Homo sapiens: one gene and its partners. The protein of the gene in region 1 purifies or fractionates together with the protein of each later gene. This does not show direct contact. Each region holds a gene or a part of one and is shown in the gene's direction. Other genes may lie near its edges. The genes, in order: OSBPL11, C12orf57, FAM114A1, FTO, PDCD4, LZIC and SEC23IP.

Region 1 (4,014 bases):
GGCTCAAGTGATTCTTCTGTCTCAGCCTCTTAAGTAGCTGGGATTACGGGCACGCACCACCATGCCCGGTTAATTTTTGTATTTTTAGTTGAGAATGGGTTTCACCATGTTGGCCAGGCTGGTCTCGAACTCCTGACCTCAAGTGATCCGCCCACCTCGGCCTCCCAAAGTGCTGGGATTACAGGCGTGAGCCACTGTGCCCAGCCTCAAGTCATGTTATTATAAACTAAAATTAGCAATTAGGAGAGACTTTAGAAATCTACCCATGCACTCTTGTTTTACAAATCCAAAACCAAGGCCTAAACAAGGTGAAAGATTTGTCTGGGGTCTGGAAGAGTACCTAGCTCTGTTCTGAGATCTCTAATTTCCATGACAGCTTCTTTTTAATTTATAATAATGATTGGCTTTACTCCAATGTCATGCTTGCCCCCCCCCCACCCCAAGTAACTAAAACGTACAGATGTTTGCTTCGTTCTTGTACTTTCTTATTTTTGTAAGCTTTCTTCCTAAAATGCCTGGAACGGCCCCTCAAATGGAAGGCTAGGACGTGGTTAGGAAGGCGGGCACTCGGCCGGGCGCGGTGGCTCACGCCTGTAATCCCAGCACTTTGGGAGGCCGAGGCGGGCGGATCACGAGGTCAGGAGATCGAGACCATCCCGGCTAAAACGGTGAAACCCCGTCTCTACTAAAAATACAAAAAACTAGCCGGGCGTAGTGGCGGGTGCCTGTAGTCCCAGCTACTTGGGAGGCTGAGGCAGGAGAATGGCGTGAATCCGGGAGGCGGAGCTTGCAGTGAGCCGAGATCGCGCCACTGCACTCCAGCCTGGGCGACAGAGCGAGACTCCGTCTCAAAAAAAAAAAAAAAAAAAAGGAAGGCGGGCACTCACACACCAGAAGGGAACTCTCTAGTGCTGCTGGCTCCTTTGTTTCTTCCTCCTTCACTGTCCGGGTTCCTCGTTCCGTTGCGGCGCCCTCCCTCGCCCTCCCTCGCCCATCAGCCAGTCGCCCAGCTACCAGCTCCCAGAGCCTCCGCCTCCTTCAGGGACCCGCCGCCCTGACCCAAGATGGCGCCAGACGCTTCGGCTGTGAGGGAAGTGAGCTCACGCTACTCCGGAAGGGAAGGCGGGAAGGGAGCAGGGGGCGGGGGGTGGCTGACCCGCTGTGGGGCTGTGGGGCTGTGGGGCTGTGGGTGGGGCGGCGGCCGCGGCCCTGGCATTCGCGCTTGGGTCTGGAGATAGCGCGAGAGACTCACCGGCTCCTGGGAACCCAGTCGAGGGCCCGGGCCAGGGGCATAAGAGGAAGTTGTCCCGAGTGGCTCGCCTCTGGCCCTGGGAGAGGCGGCCCCGGGAGCCGGCGTCCCGCCCCCGGCGGCCTCATTCCCCGACCCTCCTCCCCGGCTGCGCGCGCCGGCCCTGGCTGTATCTCGGGGGCTGCGGCGGGAACTGCCGAGCGGGCTTGACTGGACGCACTGCCTGAGGACCTGCGGAGGAGACGAGGGAGCGCGGCGGGTCAGCCCCGAGGTTAGGCCGCGGGTCCCCTGTCCGTGGCGCTCCGTCCTTTTCCCAGCCGTCTTGGCTACAGAATCTGCGACCTCCCCACACTCCTTCTCTTTTGAGTATGTCACTTAAGTCTTCTCGCCGGATGCTTTTTCCTCCTTGCTTTTGCCGGAAAGGAGAGAGATACATGTGAAGGATATCTGTCCTCGTTGCTTCCCCTGCCCTCTCAAAAGTTTAACTTCTGTGGGAATGTGTATCTTCCTTTTCTGGACCATTTGACAGTCCCGCCCCAGCCGCCGTGTGATTTAGCAACCGGTATCATATTCAGATCAAATCTTAAAAAAAAAAAGTCACCTACAGAACTACAGAATTGTTCTCTCCCGCTCAAGAAGGGCAAGTGGACTTTGGCGTTAAGATGCAGGGGGGTGAACCAGTGTCCACAATGAAAGTCTCGGAGAGCGAAGGAAAGCTGGAGGGCCAGGCCACAGCGGTGACCCCGAACAAGAACAGCAGCTGTGGAGGTGGAATCAGTAGCAGCAGCAGCAGCCGCGGTGGCAGTGCAAAAGGCTGGCAGTACAGGTATGCTCCTTTCTCCAAAATTATTTCCCGAGGTGGAGGTAGGGGTGAATATGCCCTGGAGGCTGCATCCCGCAATTGTTGAAAGATAAAAGTTTTTTCACTGGCTTCCAGAAGCTACTGATACATCTCGTTTGGATCTGGGACCTCGCCTAAAAGATTTAATCCATTCATTTGTTCATTCAACAGGTATTTATGGAAGGCCTTTTGAGGAACACAGAAATGTATCCCTGAACTTCCTCTACAGTCAGAGAGTTAATGCTTCCTCAGATTTAATTCTGTACTCACTTCTGCTTTTGCCTATGTTGCAATTTATTTACAAGCCAGCTTTCTCTGATAGACTGCGAGGGCAGGAACTGTTTAACTCAGCTTTCTCGAGAGGGTAGCAAATACTGGTGCTCAAAACTTACTTGTCCAGAGCTTCTCCAGAATCAGAAAAGATTCTTGCCCTGAAGGTATTTGTGACTTGGAAAGGGGAATGTACATAAGTAATTGGAATGCAAGGACAAAGGTAGAGATCCTAATGCCTCTGATAAACTAAACCTGAGCCTGGAGATGTTCAGTTTGCGTTGCTCAGGCCACTTCAATGCTCTCTGTGTTGATGAGAAAGTCTATATTTGTTAATTTTCACTAATATGAATGAACAACTTAAGGAACAGGAGGAGAGTCCTGGAGAGGCAACAAGTTTTGTTTTTGTTTTTTCATATATGAAGTGTAGGGAGAAAGAACTATCCAGAACCTTAAGAATGAATGAAACAAACCAGCACATCCCATCGTATTGGAACTAAAGGGATGAATTCTTAAGTTTTGATTGACTCCTATGTGCCTAACTGTAGTCCTTTTTAGCCTTTGTGCTTATTTGTGCTTGTGAAATTTTTGTGAAACTTGGAAGGGATTAAAGCCAAGATTTTGTGAGGGATATACATTTATCATGAATAATATTCATATGTATGAAATATGCATGACTATATTAACATATAGAAGTGAAGTATAGAAGATTATAATTTTTTTTTTTTTTTTGAGGCAGAGTCTGGCTCTGTCACCCAGGCTGGAGTGTGGTGGCGCGATCTCGGCTCACTACCACCTCCACCTCCTGGGTTCAAGCGATTCTCGTGTCTCAGCCTCCCGAGTAGCTGGGATTACAGGCGTGCGCCACCACACCTGGCTAATTTTTGTATTTTTAGTAGAGATGGGGTTTCACCATGTTGGCCAGGCTGGTCTCGAACTCCTGACCTCAAGTGATCAGCCCTCCTCTGCTTCCCAAAGTGCCGGGATTACAGGCTTGAGCCACCGCGCCTGGCCAGAAGATAACTTTTTATTGGTAAGTGACTGTAGGATAAGAAGATATATTCAGTTAGTTTGAGAGGTCTAGGCCCGCTTTTGGAATCAGCATGATTTTTTTGTATGTGTGTGACCTGTGGCAGGGGCCGCGGGTCCCCTGTCCGTGGCGCTTCGTCCTGACCTGCTATGGGGCTGTGGGTGGGGCGCCGCCGCGGCCCTGGCATTCACATTTGGGTCTGGAGAGAGCCGGGAGTCTATTAAGTTGGTTGTGAGGTGCCTTCGAATGTTATTTTTGGTTTACAACTTTCTTGATGATATTGTTTGCAGCACAATGGTTTTTAATTTTCATGAAGTCTAATGAGTTTTTTCTTCTCTTGTTATAGTTTTGTGTCACATCTAAAAAAACATTGTGAAGTTTAAGATGACAAAGATTTACACTTATGTGTTTGTCTAGGAGTTTTGTTTTAGTGCTTATGTTTAGGTTTCTGATGCATTTTTAGTTCATTTTTCTTTATGATCATTTTTTTTTCTTTTGTGAAACATCTACATATGTGTTTTTTATACATTTCCTGTTAGGTCTTAATATTTTTCTTTTTAATATGCTTGATATCTCTTATTAAAATGTCAACATTAAATACCAATATTCCTTTAAAAATATTTT
Region 2 (3,729 bases), on another chromosome or scaffold:
ACAGTGAGTCATGATCGCACCACTGCACTCTAGCCTGGGTGACAGAGCAAGGCCCTATCTCAAAACAAACAAACAAAAGACACCCCAACCAACCAAACACTAGAGGCCTGGGACAGGCCCACCTCTGACGTGGTCAGTTCTAGGAATCTATTCAGACGGGTCTCACTGCTAGGAGCCACCAGAGTCCTCCGGAACAAGGGCTTCAGAGTCCTGAAACCTTTCCGTGGAATACTTTAAGAAACGGTTATGAGGCCAGGCGCGACGGCTCACGCTGGTAATCCCAGGACTTTGGGAGGCCGAGGCGGGCGGATCACGAGGTCAGGAGTTCCAGACCAGCTTGGCCAACATGGCAAAACCCTGTCTCTACTAAAAACAAAACATTAGCTGGGCATGGTGGCGCGCGCCTGTCGTCCCAGCGACTTGGGAGGTTGAGGCAGGAGAATCGCTTGAACCCGGGAGGTGGAGGTTATGGTGAGCCAAGATCCCCCCCAGCTGCACTCCAGCTTGGCGACAGAGCAAGACTCCGTCTCAAAAACAAAAAACAAAGCCGGTTATGAAGCGGGGGTGGGGTGGGCTAGTTTTAATAGGTCCAGGCGATTAGTACCTGGCATCCTTAACCACCTACAGTTTGAGAAGGGAGTGGGTGATAAAAGCCTGGAAGGGAAGGGAAATCGGGCCGGGCATTAGGCTCCATCGCTCATCAATAGACAAGGCCTTTAGGAAACTGCGACAACGGCTTTTGCTCTGGGCCTTTACTGCCGAATCCAGGTCTCCGGGCTTAACAACAACGAAGGGGCTGTGACTGGCTGCTTTCTCAACCAATCAGCACCGAACTCATTTGCATGGGCTGAGAACAAATGTTCGCGAACTCTAGAAATGAATGACTTAAGTAAGTTCCTTAGAATATTATTTTTCCTACTGAAAGTTACCACATGCGTCGTTGTTTATACAGTAATAGGAACAAGAAAAAAGTCACCTAAGCTCACCCTCATCAATTGTGGAGTTCCTTTATATCCCATCTTCTCTCCAAACACATACGCAGCAGTGTTACAGCTCTTTTAGAATTTGTCTAGTAGGCTTTCTGGCTTTTTACCGGAAAGCCCCTCTTATGATGTTTGTTGCCAATGATAGATTGTTTTCACTGTGCAAAAATTATGGGTAGTTTTGGTGGTCTTGATGCAGTTGTAAGCTTGGGGTATGAAGGTTTGGGCCACGCCTGGGCGCTTCCGGCTGCGCCGGATGCTGTTTCCTTTCCGCTCCCAGGGGCGTTGGGAACGGTTGTAGGACGTGGCTCTTTATTCGTGAGTTTTCCATTTACCTCCGCTGAACCTAGAGCTTCAGACGCCCTATGGCGTCCGCCTCGACCCAACCGGCGGCCTTGAGCGCTGAGCAAGCAAAGGGTGAGAATCGTCCTAGTCAAGGCATAGGCTGCTGGCCTGGGGTAGTCAAGGCATGGGCTGCTGGTCTGGGGAGGATGCGGGCGGAGGATGTGGGGCGACAAACCTGGCTACGTCCGCCGGGAAAATGGGGTAGGGGACGCCGGGTACCGTCCTTCTAAGTGGGGCGCTTGCCCCCAAGACTTGGGATCTTATTGGGTTACCTACAGCCTCAATCCACTAATTCCTTGCGCTCTCCGCTGGGCCCGCTGTCTGTTCTCCGACGCCTACCCGGGACGCCTCCCTGGGATGCTTCTGGCGCGCAGTGGTCCTCGCGGAGGTGATCCAGGCGTTCTCCGCCCCGGAGAATGCAGTGCGCATGGACGAGGCTCGGGATAACGCCTGCAACGACATGGGTAAGATGCTGCAATTCGTGCTGCCCGTGGCCACGCAGATCCAGCAGGAGGTTATCAAAGCCTATGGCTTCAGCTGCGACGGGGAAGGTGGGTCAGACGCGGGAAGGCGGGTCAGACGCGGGAAGGCGGGAGTTGGGTCGGGAGAGGGCGCCGGATCTGTGGGCCCATGAGCGGTTGTCCCCTTTCTCGCCACACGGCGGCAGCCACAATCTGACTAACATTCTTGGCACTCAGAGCCCAGGGTCTACCCTGAGCTTGTGCGTCCGAGTTGCGTTTTGTACAGTAGAGGTTCTGTATCCCTTACCCGAAATGGTTGGGACCGGAAGTGTTTCGGGTTTTTTCAGATTTCGGAATATTTACATATACATGGATATCTTGGGGGATGGGACCTAAATCTGAACACGAAATTGTTTTGTTTCATATACACGCACCTTATGCACATAGCCTGAGGGTAATTTTATATAATAGTCTGAATAATTTTGTGCATGAGACAAAGTTTTGACTGCGTTTTGACTACAGTCTCCCCCACCCCCCACTATGAAGTCAGGTGTGGAATTTTCCATTTTCGGCCTCACACTGGCACTCATAATTTCAGATTTTGGATTTTCTAATTAAGGATGGTCAACCTGTACTGTTAATCACATTATTATTCCATTTTGTGATGAGGAAGCAAACTCTAATGGTGCAGACTCTCGAGTAGCAGAGCTGGACTTAAATGCTGTTGTGCCACCTTTTAGTGACATGTCTGCATGACAGCAGTGGCTGCAGTCTCTCCAGGGTGTTTCAGCTAATTTTTGTTTGGGGGGGGTTGGTGGTTAAATTTTTGGTGAGATCCTGGTGTTCCCCAAAGGTGTTGACTGATTCAGCTCTGCTGCCTCATAGCCTTCCTGAGTTCCAGCTACAGACCTGGGGTCTCGTGTTCATTCTTGGGGTTCCAGTGACTAAACTGCTAAAATGGTTCACCTGAGAGCAAGAAGCACACTGCCTTGGGACATTTTCATTCACTGCATCCCATCTAGTTGTGCCCAGTGTAGACCAAATGTCATCATCCAAACCACACGGGACAGAGGCCTGCATGCGTCCTGTTTGGCAAACAGCTGCCCAGCCAGTGGGGGAGCAGTTCATGCTTAGACTACCACCCCCTCCAGGTGTCTTAGGCACGCTGGTCCTTAGGAGAAGGGTTGACCTTCCACTCCCTCTTGCAGGTGTCCTTAAGTTTGCTCGCTTGGTCAAGTCCTACGAAGCCCAGGATCCTGAGATCGCCAGCCTGTCAGGCAAGCTGAAGGCGCTGTTTCTGCCGCCCATGACCCTGCCACCCCATGGGCCTGCTGCTGGTGGCAGCGTGGCCGCCTCCTGAGAGTTGGCCCTCCCTTGTGCCACTGCCAGGGGAGGAAAGGCCTTGATGTTCCAGACAATAATAAATGCGCCTGTGACTTAGCCTTGGTGTCAGTCTCTTGCGGACCTGACAACCCCCATCTCTCCTTCCCTGATTCCCTCTGCCTTTCCAGGCCCCATCCCCCTGAACAGCTCCTCCCTATGGTCCTGGCTGGGCCTAACCCTGCCCCAGGGCCTAACCCTACCTGAGGCTCCTCCCCTTCCCCCGGGGCAGGTTGAGAGGCTGGAGTGGGTCCCTCAGCGCCCTGGGTGGGTGGGCCTGCACAGGGGGTACCTCCTTCTCTGAGGAACTGGGCTGTTAGGGATTTTCCTTAGGCCCTTTGGTTTCCGCCTACGGAGAGGTTTCCCCCATTGGTTGCTCTTCCTCAGCCAGGGTTACTTCCTGGTCTGTTCCCCTACCCAATACCCCGCCGCTCTGTCAGCTTGAGCTCCAGGTGGAGCTCCAGGTGGCTCCTCCTCTCCCGGGGGAAGGCGGCCCTGGACCAGCAGGCGGGCCTGCTGTACTCCCGCTTTGGGGCTGCAGGGAAGCTGGCCGCTGTGGG
Region 3 (3,500 bases), on another chromosome or scaffold:
TTAGCAAGCAGTGGTTTACATAGGTACTCACTTATCCAGGTGGGTGAGGAAAAGGGCAGAATGAGGAGGTGAGATGAGTAATTTCTTTATCTCTGATGGGGGTCACTGATTCTGGCAGGTCAGTGACTTGAACACAGTGGGAAGTTGCCTCATTCATCTCCGTGCAGCATCTGCCACTGCTCAGAGGGGGCATGTGGTGGCTCTGAGATTCCACTGGCTTATTTGCTTAGGGTTAAATCTTTGTCTGTAATAGAGGACACACTGAGGACAGTTTTGCTGGGTTTTCTCTCCCCAGATCTTCTTGCTGTTAACTTACCATTCAACACTCTGATATTTTTAACTTTGGCGTGTAAGATTTAACGTGGGAAGTAAGTTTAGTGTAAGCCCCAAAACAACTTTTACTTAAGCAAACAGCTTAAACTATAATGATAAAATTGGAGTGAGTCTGCCCCTTCGTTCTAAATTCAGGGAATAACAGGCAGGGGAGGAGGTTTCTGATTGTTTAATTTAGCCATGATTTTGCAGGGCACAGAGTGCGTAAACTGCACTCATGTGAAATTAAACTAGACACAGAGCAGCACCAGACCTTTCCAGCAGCGCTTCTCTTCTCCCCCTTGAGGGTGGAAGACCTGTCATGAATCAAGAAACGCAGAGCCCTTCTTCACCTTCCCAGCATGATACATTGTTAGGTTCATGAAACATGAAGAGCTTCCTGAAATATATCAGATGAGGACATTTGCTGTAGCCGCGGCCCCATGGCTCAATTTCTAACACATATTTTTAAAAATACTATTATTCTTTTATAGATGGTCATGAAAAGTGAAAAATATACCATAGATTTTTCAATGTGACTGTCATTTTTATTCTTATCTGAATATCATTTTTAAATGCTTTTTGAAGAGTCCTCAGGCTTGCATTGTTCTTTCCATACCTTCTGTTCTGTCCCTCTTTTCTACTTTATATTTACCAGAAAGCAACAACAAGGTTATCTTTTTCGGGGGTTGAAAAATTGCCCCGTCATCCTCCAAACATACAGAGATCCATTCTTGAAGGCTTAGAGACACTTGATTCTAGTCTTGGGGTTGGAATGACTTAGTTTCCATATTTGCGCCATAAAAGGATTGTTTGGTTGGGGACCTCTGCAGGCCATGAAGAGGGCTCATGACTGGGTGGAAGAGGATCAAACCGTGGTGTCAGTAGATGTGGCAAAAGTGTCCGAAGAAGAAACAAAGAAGGAAGAAAAGGAAGAGAAATCTCAAGACCCTCAAGAAGACAAAAAGGAGGAAAAGAAAACTAAGACCATAGAGGTAAATTCATTCTAGATTGTCTGCCTACAAGGTAATAAGAGTGTGTTCATTTTATTAGCAGCTTAATTTTAATTGAGGAGAGGCCATTTCTTTTTCATTTGTTCCGTGTTATAGAAATATAAGTTTGAGACCAGCCTGGCCAACATGGTGAAACCCTGTCTCTAGTAAAAATACAAAATAATAATAATAATAATTAGCAGGGCGTGGTGGCGTGTGCCTGTACTCTCAGCTACTTGGGAGGCTGAGGTATGAGAATTGCTTAAACCTGGGCGGTGGAGGTTGCAGTGATTAGATCACTGTAAGGAAAAATATCCATTGAGCTCTGTTCATTCAGCCGGCCTTCCACACACCTTCTTTAGCACCTGCCTGTTTTGTACCCAGCATTGCTGTAAGCACTGGGGATGCAGCTGTGAACAGACCTGCCACATCCGTGGGGGCTTTACAGCCCTTCCTGGCAACATTACACTTAAAGTCTTAGATATGCTTGTAATCATCAGGTTAACTATTTCGGGTTATATTTGGGGTATTTTTGAAAGAATTATATCACTTCTAATGTCACAGCATTTTTTTAAAAAAGCATCTGCTCAGTAAAAAATTTCTTGCTTGTGTCTATTCATTTCAGGAAGTATACATGTCGTCCATTGAAAGTCTGGCGGAGGTAACAGCGCGCTGTATTGAGCAGCTTCATAAAGTAGCAGAATTAATTCTTCATGGACAAGAAGAGGAAAAACCAGCTCAGGACCAAGCAAAAGTTCTAATAAAGTAAGTAAATGTTACTTTAAATTCTTATTTTCCCAGTTTTATATATAGGTACCATTCAGATACACACATACACACCCACACCCTCTAAGCCACTAGAAGATTCAGGTTTCTTTTTGTTTGTTTTTGTTTTTTGTTTTGTTGAGACGGGATCTCACTCTGTCACCCAGACTGGAGTGCAATGGCATGATCATGACTCACTGCAGCCCCAAACTCCTGGGCTCACGTGACCCTCCTGCCTCAGTCTCCCCTGGAGTTGGGACCACAGGTGCGTGCCACCACATCCAGCTAATTTTTTAATTAATTGCAGAGACCAGGCCTGGCCACGTTGCCCAGGCTGGTCTCAAACTCCTGAGCTCAAGCAGTCCTCCTGCCTCAGCCTCCTAAAGTGCTACGATTACAGGCATGAGCCACCATACCTGGCCAAAGATTCAAATTTCAAGTCAACCAATTCCATTGTTCTACGGTCATCTTAAGAAATAAGGATTTTTTTTTTTTTTTGAGACAGAGTCTCGCTCTGTCACCAGGTTGGAGTACAGTGTCACGATCTCAACTCACTGCAACCTCCGCCTCCCAGGTTCAAGCGATTCTCCTGCCTCAGCCTCCCGAGTAGCTGGGATTACAGGTGCGCACCACCACATCCAGCTAATTTTTGTATTTTTAGTAGAGACGGGTTTTCACCATGTTGGCCAGGATGGTCTCCATCTCTTGACCTTGTGATCTGCCTGCCTCGGCCTCCCAAAGTGCTGGGATTACAGTCGTGAGCCACCACGCCTAGCCAGAAATAAGGATTTCTTTAGCAAGTGCATTATGTTAGCAAGAAGAAGACTTAACTAGCCATTCTAGGAATTATTTATGAAGAGATTTAAGGGAAAACACACTAAATCATTGCATGAGGCGTGAAAGTACTTATTTAATAGATCAAAGTCTTAGAAGTAAAACCTTTTGAGGGTAATTACATTTTCAACATATACATGAATAGAGAAAGGACACTTTAATGTAACTTCTAGCTAGATTCACAAAATAGGCAAATACACTCCACTGCTCCTGGGGACTTATACCAGGTCTCCACGTTCCAAACTCCAGTGATGACGGTCACTAATATTAACCAGTTCACTGTGGGTTGTATGTGTGCATGTATGTGTTGTCCTATATCATGTTCTTCAATAAATAATAGCTATTATCATTAGTTTATTAAGTAAAATTAAAATATATGTGTAACATATATGAATATGCAATCTAGTGAATATACATGAAAATAGTTGATATGGAGCATTCATGAAAATAGTTGGTATGGAGCTGAAAAATAAGCCTTTAACTTTTATGCACATGACTGTATACTGTGATGTGGAAAATTAACATAGGCCTAAGTACCCTCGTATTATTAGACAGACACAGGAGCCAAAATAGAGCCCCTGAAAATATCCAGGGATG
Region 4 (3,500 bases), on another chromosome or scaffold:
CCTGGATGTAGATGTTTTCCTCTCTCTTGCTGACCCCTCCGCCAGTTTTGTCTTGTGATGCCATTAACACATCTCTCCCTTTCTGACCTGGCTCCTGCCCATTGGTGTCCCAAGAAATCGTGAGAATAGTTAGCCCCCCGTCTCCCCAGCCTGTTGCTTTCTCGTGTAGTTGTTCACAGTAGTTGAGAAGTTGAAGAGCTTTTGCCTATTGAAGGTGCACTGAGAATAAACTCTTTCCTGCCACCAGAATTGCAGTGGTTCACGGCCTGCACTCATTCCCATGAATGCAGTTAATAGCCACAGAAATGTCACATTAAGCAAAGCAGCCAGGGTCTCATCGTGTTGAGACTCGAGTCTCTCAGACCTTGGATTCATTCCCTGGTGTCTTTGAGCCTCAGTTTCCTCATTGGTAAAAGAGAAGTGAAGCAGTGTCTCACAGGGTCATTACAGAGATTAAATGAAATAAATGAAATAACATAGACCAGGAGGGCGTGGTGTTTAAAAGTCACAGATGGGGCACCCTCGGGCCATCCAGCCCAGTGTTTTCTTTAGCCCCTATGATGTTCATTTTTTGTTATATCCCATTAGGTGCCCATATTTAAAAATTGGGAGATTTCACATAAAATTAAAAGGTCTGCATTTTCTTTTTTCTTTTCTTTTTTTTTTTTTTTGAGACACAGTCTCACTCTGTCACCAGGCTAGAGTGCAGTGGCACGATCTCAGCTCACTGCAACCTCTGCCTCCCAGGTTCAAGTAATTCTCCTGCCTCAGCCTCCCAAGTAGCTGGGACTACAGGCACGTGCCACCACGCCCAGCTAATTTTTGTATTTTTAGCAGAGATGGGGTTTCACCACATTGGCCAGGATGGTCTCGATCTCAACCTCGTGATCCACCCACCTCGGTCTCCCAAAGCGCTGGGATTACAGGCGTGAGCCACCGCGCCAAGCCAAGGTCTGCATTTTTCTTTAGAACTCAGAACACCCAATAGTCCTAGGCCCCCATCCTCGCATGGCAGCAAGCTAAATAAGCATCTTCCCACTGCGAGTTGGGGCATGACCCAGCCTATGGTTTGCCATACTCCCTCTTTTTCTCCGTTTTTTCATTAATTGTGAACCTGACCTGCATCACCCTTTCATGTCAGTGCTCTCCAAACCTGCTTGCTTGCACCCCTCTAGTCGAAATATTTTGTGCTTACCCCAATATATGTGTGTGACTATTGAACTCTATTCGTAGACTGCTTGTACTAATGTCATTTGCATCATAAAATATTCATATCCAATAAACATATTAAAAGGATGAGATAAGAAACCGAGAGATTTTGCTGTTTTTTTCCTTTTGCATGGATGAGCCAGCTTCACTGTCCTGGGTGGGGCCCAGGTGGAATTAGTTCTCAAAGTCCTCCAGGTGGAGTCAGGGAATGTGCAACAGGGTTGGAGAAATCACTACTTTAAGTGAATCCGAAAGGTGAGATCACATTTGCTCTAAAGAAATGGTGATCCCAGCACTTTGGGAGGCTGAGGCAGCAGATCACTGGAGGTCAGGAGTTCGAGACCAGCCTGGCCAACACGGTGAAACCCCGTCTCTACTGAAAACACAAAAATTAGCTGGGTGTGGTGGTGTGTGCCTGTAATCCCAGCTACTCGGGAGGCTGAGGCAGGCAAATCGCTTGGCCCGGGAGGCGGAGGTTGCAGTGAGCCGAGATCATGCCACTGCACTCCAGCCTGGGCCACGGAGCGAGAGAAGAAAGAAATGGTGACTTTCATTGATCATGTGTTTGAGGATTTCATGTGCTCTCCAGGGAGGTTTCAGGTGGGTAGAAGGAGGTGGGCAAGACCCAATAAAAAAGCAGCTGGTGCGGGCAATGACAATGAACTCGTATCCTGCAGGGTCAAAGGAAGGCTTGCTTCTGCTGTGAATTGGAGAAGGACTTTCCTGGAAGCACAGGCCCAGAAATCGCACCCTTCTCCCCATGTGTGCGGATAAGGGACCACTTCCATCAGCAGCAGCCCCCTCCTGCTTTCCTGCCAGTCCTCCCTGTGGTCCCAGGTCTCTTGAGAAAAGTGATCTAAGAGATCCCTTTGCAATGAGGTGCTACTGACTGCCCTACCTCCCTCCCTTCCTCCCATGAATGTTTCTTGGTGCTGACCACAGCCTCAGCAATGAGGCAAGCCTGGGGACCCAAGACAGATCTCTGCCTCCCAGGCTAGTGGATGCCCTGGGATATGTAGTCACCAAAATAGGAACTTACCCCATAGTGGGGAAATAGACAGTAAGCAGCAAATCAATAACAAGAGTGTTCCAGATGGTTGTAAGTGCCAGGAAGGGAACCAACTGGGAGAGGGACAAGAGGAGATGGTGACTGACCAAGGGGACCTTGATCAGGCTGTGGGGAAGGGAGGTGGTTGGGAAGAGCTTCCCAGGAAAGGGGACGGCGGGCCCAGGCAGGAGAGCCTTGGGAGGGGGTGCCCAAGGAAGGAAAAGGGCCCTGAGCCTGAAGCCGAGAAGACCAGGAGGGGAGAAGGGGAGATGTAGGGCAGAGCAGACGGGAGCCGCTCGGGTTTTATTCCACACACCCCAGGAAGCATGAGAGGGTTTCAAGCAGCAAGGGCATGGAAGTAACTTGGTGAGATATTTTTATGCATTAGATCATCGCTCTATCTGGATTCCAGAGGGTCTCTGAGAGAGCAAACAGCTTAATCCAAAGGAGCGGCTTTCCAACTGGGAATGTCCCCCTGGCTGGGTGAGATCTCAAGATGGCCTGCGGCCCCTCTAGATTGCCTGCCTACAGAGTTCACTCTAAACAGCCCCTCCCCTCCACACCCCAGCAGATCCATTCCTGACGCCCTCACTGGCAGGCTCCAGCCCCACAGAGCTTTCTAGACATAAAAGAGCAGGGTCATGGCATCATTGGTGACACAATTTTAGTAATAAGCTTCAAAACCCATCACTCCACTGAATCCAGGGATGCCAGAATTGAGAGTCCATAGGACCCGTTTAACGGATCCCACATTCAGTAGACGGTTTTTTGTATGCTTCGAGGGAAGGAAGGTATTTTCAAATGCAACTTCTTTTTTTTTTTTCTTGCTCTAGTTAGGGCTGATTTTACCACTGGGCAAATTGCATACATTTGGATCCATGCCACGCTAAAAACTGTTTATTTTGGAGATCTGTCAGAGGCAAGCACATGGAAGACAAGGGGATTCTGGTTTGAAAAGGCAATTCTCATCCAGACAGATTCAGATGGAGAGGAGCGGTGTGGATTAAAATGCGCCGAAGTGGTAATGCCGTTTATCCCGTTTGCCTTTGTTACTCTGTGATTAAATGGTATTTTTAATTAAGTTTCATTGGGAGCCATAGGTATCGCGGTGGTGAAATCAATTTGACAACCATAAAGGGGAGAGACGGCACAGGCGTGTTGTGATGATTGCGGCTGTAGGGAAAGCCGGGCAGCTTGCAGAGGATGGGTGGGAGGAGGGGAAGCCGGCTAAGAATGACTTCCT
Region 5 (4,011 bases), on another chromosome or scaffold:
GAGACATTTCAAGGTGATATATAAAGAACTACCAGGGGGTGAGGAAGCATATGGGGAGATGTGTGGAGACACAGCCTGAAAGTCTTGAAGTCACATCACGGAGCCTTGAATGACCGACCGAGGCGCTGACACTCAAGAGAGGCAATGGGAAGCCAGTGAAGGTTTGTGTGTGTGTGTGTGCGTGTGTGTGCAGAGAAATAGTAGCATTAGAGATGATTCCCAGGCAGGGTGACTGGGCAGCCAAGGGAAAGCGCTGGCCTGTGCGGGATGAGGCAGTTGGGTTCTGGAGAGCACAAGCAATCATTCGGTGCTGCCCATCAGACAACTGAAAAATCTGATCAGAGGCAGTGGCTAAGTCCCCGCCTGGGAACACAAAGGAAGCCTAAGGTTCTGGTTATCACCCTCAGGGGACCGTGACCTTGAAAGAGTAAGGATAGTACCAGCCAAAACCAATGCAGCCAAGAGGAAAAGTCACAGAGAACAGCGAGGGGAGGTGGAAGTTTCAATACAGAAATTGTAGCCATGGCTGAGAACCCCAGCACTGGAGGCCGGAATTTGTGCGTTTGAACGCCAGAGGCTTGGCTAGTCATGATTAGCAAAGGAACTTCAAAGAGTTTTGGAGCCTGCTTTATATCTGTGAAATGGGAATTATTTCCATCTCAAAGGTTTGAGGGGATTCGCTGAGAGAAACTTCTTAGCATGGGATCTCCAGAAACTGGAAGCCACAGAGAAAGCAGCGGCCAGAGGGAGGAGGAATCGGACAGGCTGATCACTTGGAGTGTTCGCCTAAGCAGTTTCTAGAAATGGAGGCAGGGACCATCAGGAAGCTCAAAACCTTTGCTTCAGCCGAGTTTGCAGAACGCCCTGTGAGGAGAATGGGTGAGCTGGGTCGAGGAAGCTTCATCCTCGTCCCCATCCCCCAGCACTGCCCTTTTCCCAACGCTCCCATCCCGCCACGCCTCCCAACATACCCCCACCCCGACTTCCCGCTCAACTCCCGCTCCAGCCAGTCCCAGGAGCCACATGCGCATGCGCCCTCCCGCGCCCCTCCCCAACTTTCCACGTTTCACTCCTCTCCCTTTTCCTCCTCAGCTCCGGCTCCGCCGCCACGATTGGCCAGCCGACCACCCGGCCTCGGCCAATAAGCGCCGCCCTCTCGCCCCCGTGTTACTGGGTAGAAGAAAACAAAAACAAACAGAGCGAGAAGGGCCAGAGACTCTCCGAGGCGGCGGCAGAGACAGAAGAGCGGGGTCGGGGCCGGCTGACCAGGAACCTGGGCGAGCAGCGGCGGGGGCCCGAGGGGTCAGTACCAGTAGGCGCGGCTCACACGCTCGGGAAGACTGCGCCCTCTCCCCCATCCCTCCTCGGAGGCAGCCGCAAGATGGGAGGGGGCGGGGGCGGAGGCGTGGGGGTCGCGGTCCTGTCAGGTCCGGGCCTGCGGTGCGGGGGTCCGGCTGCCTTCTTGTAGCCCCGCAGGTCCAGCCGCGCCCTCCCCAACGCCCCGGACTGCGGGCATCCGGCCTGGTTCCCTCTTTCTGAGCCCAGCCTGGAGCGTGTCGGCGCGGGCCCGCCCCCTCCCGGAGCCATCTCCCCACTGAGAGGGGCGCGCGAGGCGCTCGCCCTTGAAGGTCCCCCTCAGCCCTCCTCCCCCTCTGGCGGAGGTTGAATTCGGGGGCCGGGATTGGAAGGCGTGTTTCCGGCTGGACTGAAATCCTGTGAGGAAGATTCGCGCCCTCCCCGCCCCCTGCCCTCCCTGGGAATCCTCTGAAGATGCGGCCCCCTGTCCTTCGTGAACCCGGAGCCCCGGCCTCGGCCCCGGCCCAGCCCCTTCCGGGGGCCGACCCGGGCTGGGACTTCGGGGGTCCTAGCCTGAGCCCGCTGCGGGAGAACAGGCCCGGCCGCTGTGGGGAGGGGCCGCGCGCTATCCTCGCCGGGGGCGCTGGGAGGCGAACACGTGCCCGCCGCCCCATCCCTGCGCGAACTTCGTCGCGCCCGTCTTCCGGCAAAGGGTCTCTTTTTTTTAGTTTAGGTAAAATAAAATCTCCCAGAGAAAACAAAGCCGGGAAGGGAGCCCCCTTTCTGTGAAACGCATGCCATCTTCTCCATTTGTCAGTTTGATGCTGTAACGTACATGGGGTTTTGCAAGAGCTTCAAAACTGTCTGCAGACGTCAATTTCGCCCCCCTCCCCCTTGTGAGAACTCGCTACGTAGCCAGCAACTGTGTAGTGTCTACAAATGATGAAAACGATCAGAAATGCGATTAGGTGTCGGGGAAAAAAGGGTTTCCCCTGTTTTTAACTTGTATTTTTACTTTAATTGTTACAATCTTGATATTCTTAACGTGACTTTTTTGGGAAACCACCAAGTGCTTTTTAAGCAAGGAGTTACTGGTATTTATGCCCTTAATATTCCTTCATTATAGGCTTATTGAATACGTTAATATCTCAGTAAGTGTATTTGAATTATAATTGACTGGCTTTTTCTGTGGTACTAATGTGAAAGGAAAAAATATTAGGACTGCAAAAATAAATGCCGCTTGAATATTATCTGTAGTGCTTGCTTTTGCATTACTGTAGTAGAATGCTTTTAGCTGGTTTTAAGCTGCTAATTAGCCGTTCGTAGCCGAAGAATGAATACAAGTAATCCTAGTTAATAAATGGCCAAAGCTTGACTCCCCAAAATGCCAGAGCAATTTATGAGGTATATTTCAGGAAATACATATGTATATATTTCGTGGGGGAGTGGAGGGTCTGTCTCTTAGGGAATGTCTTGGCAGTTGAATACTTCTGATTGTATATTTCGTGTAACACACTGGAGAAAAGAACAGTGTTTAATGTCAGCCTTCATTTTCTTCTAACTTGTATGTATAGTTTTCTCATCGAAAATTCATTTTTGTAGGTTAGTATGAAGGAAATAGCGTTTGGATTTTTTGCTTTATATTTTCTTGTTTGGGCCAATTAAGGGTTGTTAAATAAATTGGAAAAAATCCTACTACTTTAAAGAGCGTAAAAACGTGGAACATGTCTTATCTAAACTCTTAAAACGTGTTTGTTGCTGTCAAATATGACTTGAGTTCCTGATCGGGTTATCATTGCCTAAAGACACAGGACTATTTTTTTTATTAAGATAACTTTGTTTTTATCTTAATAAAAGAGATGATAGTCATTTCCTGACAGTTTTGTCTGACGGAATGCCTTCTGTATAATAGTTTAAAATAATTATTTTTAGTGTTTGGAAAACAGCATTTAAAAGTTTGAACAGCAGAAGTCTGTTTTAAGAAGCTTCTGTTAACCCTTGAAAAGAATCTTCCTGTGGGATATTAAAATTTTGGATTGAACTTGTGCAAACAGTACTGGATTTGGAAGGTCTGGATTCTCATCCTGGCTGTTCCACTAAGCAGCTGTCTGTCCTTGGACATATCACCTACCCTCTCTGAATCTGTTTAGTTGTGTGTAAGGTGGAATACCTACCCGAAGGTTTTTCTGTAAGGTACATTAAATAATACATGTACAATTCTTTTTGAATTGTAAAGGGCTTTATGAACATCAATTATAATCATTTCGCTTATTAGGTTCTGCAGAAAGTATTCTCTCAAAAGTTATACTTTCATCAAGAATGAAAAAGACTTTGTAATGGAACTCTAAAAAACTGAAACACGTATCATATGACATTATTCCTTTCCTATATGTATTTCATGCATGGAATTAAAACAGAATGTAGCCTTTTCAGCCATGAAGGATGCTGAGTGTTTAGATTTGCAAACCATTTTTGTTCATATATTTATATGAATCTCTACATATTTTTAAGATTTTTTTTTCATATCTAAAGTTGGCGGGAGTTATAGTGAAAAGTGATTATAAAGATTCACATATATTAATTTATTCTTAACAGAATTAGAGAATGATCTCACCATTTTCTTAAGTTCCCAAGCAATATGATAGCATATTAGTCTGAGGATTATACCATAGTAAGAAGCCTATAATTTTAACATAAGGTCCATTTGTTTTTGTT
Region 6 (3,500 bases), on another chromosome or scaffold:
CTGGCTAACACGATGAAACCCCGTCTCTACTAAAAAATACAAAAAAAATAAGCTGGGCGTGGTGGCGGGTGCCTATAGTCCTAGCTACTCGGGAGGCTGAGGCAGGAGAATGGTGTGAACCCGGGAGGCGGAGCTTGCAGTGAGCTGAGATTGCTCCACTGCACTCCAGCCTGGGCGACAGAGCAAGACTCTGTCTCAAAACAAACAAAAAACATGTTTTAATAAGTTACCTGGAAAGTTTTGTGGTTTGTTTTTTGTTTTTTGTTTTTTTTTGAGTAGGAGTCTCACTCTGTCTCCCAGGCTGGAGTGCAGTGTCACAATCTCAGCTCACTGCAACCTCTGCCTCCAAGGCTTGGATGATTCTCCCACCTCAGCCCGCCAAGTAGCTGGGACTACAAGCACACACCACCATGCCCAGCTAATATTTTAATTTATTGTAGAGACGGGGTTTCGCCGTGTCGGCCAGGCTGGTCTGTAACTCCTGGTCTCAAGTGATCTGCCTGCCTTAGCCTCCTAAAGTGCTGGGATTACAGGTGTGAGACACCATGCCTGGCCCCAGTCAATAGGATATTTAATGAAACTTGACATACTGATTGTTAAATTCATCTGGAAGAGAAAGTGCACAAGAAGAGCCAAGAATTTTGGGGAGGAGAAAACAATAAAGGCAAGTCATTATCAGTTATCGAGATATATCAGTGATAAAGCCATAATAATGTAAATAGCAAGAAATGTTGCCTGAGGGCTGGACACAGTGGCTCATGCCTGTAATCCCAGCATTTTAGGAGGCCAAGGCCAACATGGCGAAACACTGTCTCTACTAAAAATACCAAAAAAAAAAAAAAAAAAAAAGGCAGATGTGGTGGCACACCTGTAATCCTAGCTACTCAGGAGGCTGAGGCAGGAGAATCACTTGAGCCCAGGATGTGGAGGTTGCAGTGAGCTGAGATCACATCACTGCACTCCAGCCTACTGCACTCCAGCCTGGGTGACAGAGCGATACTCTGTGTCAAAAAAAAAAGAAAAAAAAAAAAGCCAAGTGGGGTGCCTCATGCCTGTAATCCTAGCACTTTGGGAGGCTGGGGTGAGTGGATCATTTGAGGTCAGGAGTTCAAGACCGACCTGGCCAATATGGCAAAACCACATTTCTACTAAAAATACAAAAATTAGCCGGACGTGGTGGCACGCACTCAAGAGGCTGAGGCAGGAGAATTGCTGAAACCCAGGAGGTGGAGGTTGCAGTGAGCCGAAATCGTGCCACCGCACTCCAGTCGGGGCGACAGAGCAAGACTCAGTCTAAAAAAAAAAGAAGTGATTCCTTAGGAACAGAAAATTATCAATGACTAGCCAATTGCCCTAATACCCTTTACTAGTCAGTCTTTTATTTATTAATCAATATGCCACCTTTATTGTAGACCAAATTCTCCTGGATCAATAAATAAAAGACTGATTAGTAAAGGGTGTTTTTGAAAGGAAAGTTAGACCCCTACTTCAAAGCATAACAAAAAATGTTGCAGGTGGCTTTTGTCTGCAGCTAGAAAACAAAAATTTGTAAAAGTCTTGAATATAAAGATGTATAAATCTTGAGATGGTTAGGGCCTGCCTTCATGGGTCACAAAACGAAGAAGATTTAAAGGAGAAGATAGATTTGTCTATTAAAAAATAATAATTTGCCATGACAAAAAAACATAAAATTTAGTCAGGAGACGAAATAATATTTGCAATTACAAAGGCTTCATTGCTTGATCTTAGGAGGTCAAAGCTGCATGAGCCATGATCATGCCACTGCACTCCAGCCTGGGTGACAGAGCAAGACCCTGTCTCAAAAAAGCCAAAGGCTTTGTATCCATGTTATAAATCAGTAAGAGAAAGATAACCCAGCAGAAAGATGGTCACATTTCCAAAGAAGAAATTCATATTAAAAGATGTTCATCAGCTGGGCTTGTGGGCTTACACCTATAATCCCAGCATTTTGGGAGGCTGAGGTGGGAGGATCTCTTGAGCCCAGTTCAAGACCAGCTTGGGCAACATGGGAGACCCCATCTCTACAAAAAAATAAATTAGCCAGGTGTGGTGGTGTGTGCCTGTGTTTGCAGCTACTCAGGAGGCAGAGGTGGGAAGATGGCTTGAGCTCGAGAGGTTGAGGCTATAGTGAGCTATGATTGTGCCACTGTGCTTCAGCCTAGGCAACAGAGTGAGACCCTATCTCAAAAAAAAGTTCATGCTCACAAGTAATTAGGTCAATATACATAAGACCAATAAGATAATATCTGGAGTGTTTGGGGCTATAATGATTCATTTTATAAAGCAAAGTCACATTTGATCTACATATATATATATATTTCCATTTACCAAATTTGTTTAGAGTAAGATAGACCAATAATGAAGACTTCTAATTAATATGTCAAGTCACATAAAGAGGACTTTCAGGTATTTTTGTGGGGTGTTATTACTATATGAGTTTAAACTTTTATATCTAAATTAAGATTTTCTTTGTTTAACTATCTTTCATATACCTGTAGCTTTTTTTTTTTTTTTTTTTTTTTTGAGTCAGGGTCTCGCTCTGTCAACCAGGCCAGAGTGGAGTGGCAAGATCATGGCTCACTGCAACCTCAAATTCCTGGGCTCAAGCAGTCCTCTCACCTAAGCCTCCTGAGTAGGTGGGACTAGAGGCATCCGCCACCATGCCTAGCTAAGATTGTCTATTCTTTGTAGAGATGAAGTCTCACTATATTGGCCAGGCTGGTCTCGAACTCCTGGGCTCAAGCAATCCTCCCACCTCAGGCTCCCAAAGTGTTGAGATTACAGACATGCGTGAGCCACTGCACCCAGCTGCCTTTTTTTTTTTCTGAAATGTAGTCTCACTCTGTTGCCCAAGCTGGAGTGCAGTGGCGTGATCTCAGCTCACTGCAACCTCTGCCTCCCAGGTTCAAGCAAGCCTGCTGCCTCAGCCTCCCAAATAGCTGGGACTACAGGTAATTTTTTTTTCTTTTTTTTTTTTTGAGCCTGAGTCTTGCTCTGTCGCCCAGGCAGGAGTGCAGTGGCGTGATCTCGGCTCACTGCAAGCTCTGCCTCCCGCGTTCACACCATTCTCCTGCCTCAGCCTCCCAAGTAGCTGGGACTACAGGCGCCTGCCACCACGCCTGCCTAATTTTTTATATTTTTAGGAGAGACGGGGTTTCACCGTGTTAGCCGGGATGGTCTCAATCTCCTGACTTCATGATCCGCCCACCTCAGCCTCCCAAAGTGCTGGGATTACAGGCGTGAGCACCGTGCCTGGCCTTTTTTTCTCTTTAGAGATGGGGTTTCCCCCATGTTGCTCAGGCTGGTCTTGAACTCCTGACCTCAGGTGATCCACCCACCTCGGCTTCCAAAAGTGCTGGGGTTACAGGCGTGAGCCACCACATCCGGCCTTTTTTGTATTTTTAGTAGAGATGGGGTTTCACCATGTTAGCCAGGATGGTCTTGATCTCCTGACCTTGTGATCCACCCGCCTCGGCCTC
Region 7 (3,500 bases), on another chromosome or scaffold:
GTAAAAATAAGTGTTGTCTAGAGACATAGGAGAATTGAAGCGGTTATTGTCTTAACAGACTGCTAGTTTCTCATCTTTCAATTACACTAGTCAATCAAAACACTCAATTACAGGGACTAAAATTGATTACTTCAGTAATTTCTTTATGGAGTTTGGATCTAGATCAGTCAAACTCTATCTAGGGAGAGTTGGTGGAATAACGTATGCATTGGGTAAATTTCATGAAATTCCCTTATGCATTTTTCCCAACTAATTGTTTATTTGATTTCCAAAGAAAAATCAACAGAATTAAACAAAAAGAGAAATGATTAAAAAGAATTAAGAACCCATTTCAGTGTGGTGGAGATAGCAGTATTGTGATCAGAATGTAACTAACTTCTCTGTTAGAGATAGAGAATGGACTCTGTTTTATCATTTCATTTAAATCATACCAATACACAAATTTTTGACAATGTTGGATTTCGGCATTCTGAAAAGTAACCAGATTCATAGCATGTGGTATATAGTTAGTATTTTTGCTAACTATAACAAACTAATTGTAGTTTGTTGCTTAAATTTTTAAAAAGGTTTTTAGATAAAAGTTTAAAAAATGATAATTTCAAACTTGAAGAAAAGTTGCAAAAATAAAAAGAGTACAAAGAGCACTCTAATATCCTTTACTCAGGTTTACTTATCATTAACATTTCATCCCGTTTGTTTTTTAATTTGTGCATGTGCACACCCTGGCATATGTGAGCCCTCCCTCTTCCCCCATCCCTTTCTCCTGCCCCTTCCTCCTGCTTCTCCTCCTGCCCCTCCCTCTTCCCTCCCTTCCCCTCATCGTTTTTTTCTCTTTCTGTATATATGCAATTTTGGGGGGAATATTTGAAGGTCAGTAAAATACATTATGATTCTTTACTCCTAAATTCCTGGTGTACATTTGCTAAGCATAAGGACATTCTTCTTATGTGCACAGTGCAGCTATGAATCTCAGGAAATTGAGTGTTGATGTAATACTTCAAAATGATTTTTTAGAAATTATATATGTGTATGTATATGTACGTGTGTGTGTATGTGTGTGTGTGTGTGTATATATATATATATAAAATTTTTTTTTTTGAGGCCAGGTCTTGCTCTGTCACTCAGGCTAGAGTGCAGTGGCATGGTAACGGCTCACTGTAGCCTCGAATTCTCAGGTTCAAGTGATCCCCCTACCTCAGCCTCACCAGTAGCTGGGACCACAGGCACATGCTGCCATACCTGGCTAATTTTTTTTTTATGTTTTGTAGAAATGAGGTCTCACTATGTTGCCCAGGCTGGTCACAAACTCCTGGGCTCAAGCAGTCCTCCTGCCTTGACCTCCCAAAGTTCTGGGATTATGGGCTAAATTATATATTTTTTTGAGACTGGGTCTCACTCTGTTGTCCAGGTTGGAATGCAGTGGCGCAATCACAGCTCACCTGCAGTCTCAAACTCCTGGGCCTCAAGTGATCTTCCTGCCTCAGCCTACCAAAGTGCTGGGATTACAGGTGTGAGCCACCACACCTGTCCCAAAATGGTGTCTAATTAAAAAATTTTAAAATAAGTCTAGTCTGATTTTAAAATCGTTTTTGTAGAAAATTTGAAAAATGCAGAATACTCAATTTAATAAAAAATGTCCATAGATAACCACTGTTTTCATTTTGTTATATGTCTTTTTTTGGCAAACATATAATACCTATGGTTTCTATAATCTATTTTTTTTTTGTGTGAACATACTTTAAATGTTACTAAGATTTTTTCTAAAACATTAAAATTTTTTTCTTTTTCTTCTTCTTTTTTTTTTTTTTAAAGAGTGGGGGGGGGGTCTTGCTCTGTCATCCAGGGTGGAGTGCAGTGGTGTGATTACAGCTCACTGCAACCTTGAACTACACTTCAGCCTCAGGAGTAGCTGGGACTACAAGTGTGCCCCACCATGTCCGTGTGATTTTTAGATTTTTTTGTAGAAACGGTATTGCTGTGTTGCTCATGTTGGGCTCAAACTCCTGGCCTCAAATGATCCTCCTTCCTTGGCCTCCCAAAGTTCTGGGATTATAGGTGTGAACCATCGTGTCTATCCTCTAAAACTTTTATTTTTGTTTATTTACTTATTTTTTTTTTTAGCTATCTCCTGCAGAAAGGATATAAGACATTTTTAATGGCGCTGGAGGATCTAGCATTTGAGTTAAATATTATTTAATCAGGTTTCTGTTAGACATTTTGATTATTTCCAGTGATTTCCTATTTTATTTATTTTTTTGCAAACATTCCAAATTTATTAGCTATGATTTTATAATCAACATTATTGAGGTATAATTTACATACAGTAAAAGGCATCCATTTACAGTATACAATTCGATTTATTTAAAGTGTACAATTAGCTGAGTTTTGACAGTTGTACACACCAATTTCCTATTTTAAATAACCTTTTGATGTATATCCTTGGGGATAACTTTTTATTTTTATTTTTTATTTATTGTTTGAGACAGAGTCTCTGTCACTCAGGCTGGAGTGCAGTGGTGCAGTCTCAGCTCACTGCAACCTCCGCCTCCCGGGTTCAAGCGATTCTCCTGCCTCAGCCTCCCAAGTAGCTGGGATTGCAGGCCTGTGCCACCACGCCCAGCTAATTTTTGTATTTTTAGTGGAGACAGGGTTTCACCATGTTGGCCCGGCTTGTCTCGAACTCCTGACCTTAGGTGATCCACCCACCTCAGCCTCCCAAAGTGGCAGGATTACAGGTGTGAGCCACTGCACCTGGGCTATTTGTTTTTATAATTCTATCTTTAGGATAAATTTTTAGAAATGGAATGAGTAGGTCAAGGAGTAGGCACATTTTAAAGGTTAAATAGGCCGGGTGTGGTGGCTCACACCTGTAATCCCAACACTTTGAGAGGTCAAGGCGGGCTGGTCACTTGAGGTTGGGAGTTCGCAACCAGCCTGACCAACCTGGAGAAACCCTGTCTCTACTAAAAATACAAAATTAGCTGAGTGTGGTGGCGCATGCCTGTAATCCCAGCTACTTGGGAGGCTGAGGCAGGAGAATCGCTTGAACTCGGGAGACGGAGGCTGTGCATTGCGCCGTTGCACTCCAGGCTGGGCAAGAAGAGCAAACTCCGCCTCACACACACAAAAAAGGTTAAATAAATCATGGGAGATGTATTGCTAGATTGATTTCTGTAAAGGTGTTAGTTTACTTTGTGTTCTGTGAGAAGGTCTGGTTCACCTTGTAATTGATTTTTTTCTAAATTTTTTAATTTTTAATTTTTGTGGGTACATAGTAGGTATATATGTTTATGGGTTACATGAGATATTTTGATACAGGCATGCAATGTGTAATCATCACATCAGGATAAATGGGGTATAGATATCCCTCACCTCAAGCATTTATCCTTGATTTGGGGTTTTGTTAGGTTTAAAAATTCTTCTTAAAATTGCTTTGGGGTCTAGTTATTACACTAAGTAATTGTCCAGATATACATGTAGGATAATCTACTAACATCAGT

The links.
Region 2: the proteins of OSBPL11 (region 1) and C12orf57 purify together in Homo sapiens (co-immunoprecipitation; one large-scale study listed by IntAct). This does not show direct contact.
Region 3: the proteins of OSBPL11 (region 1) and FAM114A1 purify together in Homo sapiens (co-immunoprecipitation; one large-scale study listed by IntAct). This does not show direct contact.
Region 4: the proteins of OSBPL11 (region 1) and FTO purify together in Homo sapiens (co-immunoprecipitation; one large-scale study listed by IntAct). This does not show direct contact.
Region 5: the proteins of OSBPL11 (region 1) and PDCD4 purify together in Homo sapiens (co-immunoprecipitation; one large-scale study listed by IntAct). This does not show direct contact.
Region 6: the proteins of OSBPL11 (region 1) and LZIC purify together in Homo sapiens (co-immunoprecipitation; one large-scale study listed by IntAct). This does not show direct contact.
Region 7: the proteins of OSBPL11 (region 1) and SEC23IP purify together in Homo sapiens (co-immunoprecipitation; one large-scale study listed by IntAct). This does not show direct contact.

Annotation. Positions count from the first base shown.
Region 1 is NC_000003.12:125,592,698-125,596,711, reverse strand, and holds the start of OSBPL11 (oxysterol-binding protein-related protein 11), read left to right. Parts: upstream 1-1,214; 5' UTR 1,215-1,911; coding exon 1,912-2,075; intron 2,076-4,014. UniProt on the Homo sapiens protein: Plays a role in regulating ADIPOQ and FABP4 levels in differentiating adipocytes and is also involved in regulation of adipocyte triglyceride storage. Weakly binds 25-hydroxycholesterol. Interacts with OSBPL9 to function as lipid transfer proteins.
Region 2 is NC_000012.12:6,942,774-6,946,502, forward strand, and holds C12orf57 (protein C10), read left to right. Parts: upstream 1-1,248; 5' UTR 1,249-1,348; coding exon 1,349-1,400; intron 1,401-1,606; exon of another isoform or gene 1,607-1,702; coding exon 1,703-1,879; intron 1,880-2,997; coding exon 2,998-3,149; 3' UTR 3,150-3,229; downstream 3,230-3,729. UniProt on the Homo sapiens protein: In brain, may be required for corpus callosum development.
Region 3 is NC_000004.12:38,930,306-38,933,805, forward strand, and holds part of FAM114A1 (protein NOXP20), read left to right. Parts: intron 1-1,145; coding exon 1,146-1,307; intron 1,308-1,929; coding exon 1,930-2,069; intron 2,070-3,500. UniProt on the Homo sapiens protein: May play a role in neuronal cell development.
Region 4 is NC_000016.10:54,113,156-54,116,655, forward strand, and holds part of FTO (alpha-ketoglutarate-dependent dioxygenase FTO), read left to right. Parts: 3' UTR 1-3,500.
Region 5 is NC_000010.11:110,870,717-110,874,727, forward strand, and holds the start of PDCD4 (programmed cell death protein 4), read left to right. Parts: upstream 1-1,211; 5' UTR 1,212-1,302; intron 1,303-4,011. UniProt on the Homo sapiens protein: Inhibits translation initiation and cap-dependent translation. May excert its function by hindering the interaction between EIF4A1 and EIF4G. Inhibits the helicase activity of EIF4A. Modulates the activation of JUN kinase.
Region 6 is NC_000001.11:9,936,892-9,940,391, reverse strand, and holds part of LZIC (protein LZIC), read left to right. Parts: intron 1-3,500.
Region 7 is NC_000010.11:119,899,230-119,902,729, forward strand, and holds part of SEC23IP (SEC23-interacting protein), read left to right. Parts: intron 1-3,500. UniProt on the Homo sapiens protein: Plays a role in the organization of endoplasmic reticulum exit sites. Specifically binds to phosphatidylinositol 3-phosphate (PI(3)P), phosphatidylinositol 4-phosphate (PI(4)P) and phosphatidylinositol 5-phosphate (PI(5)P).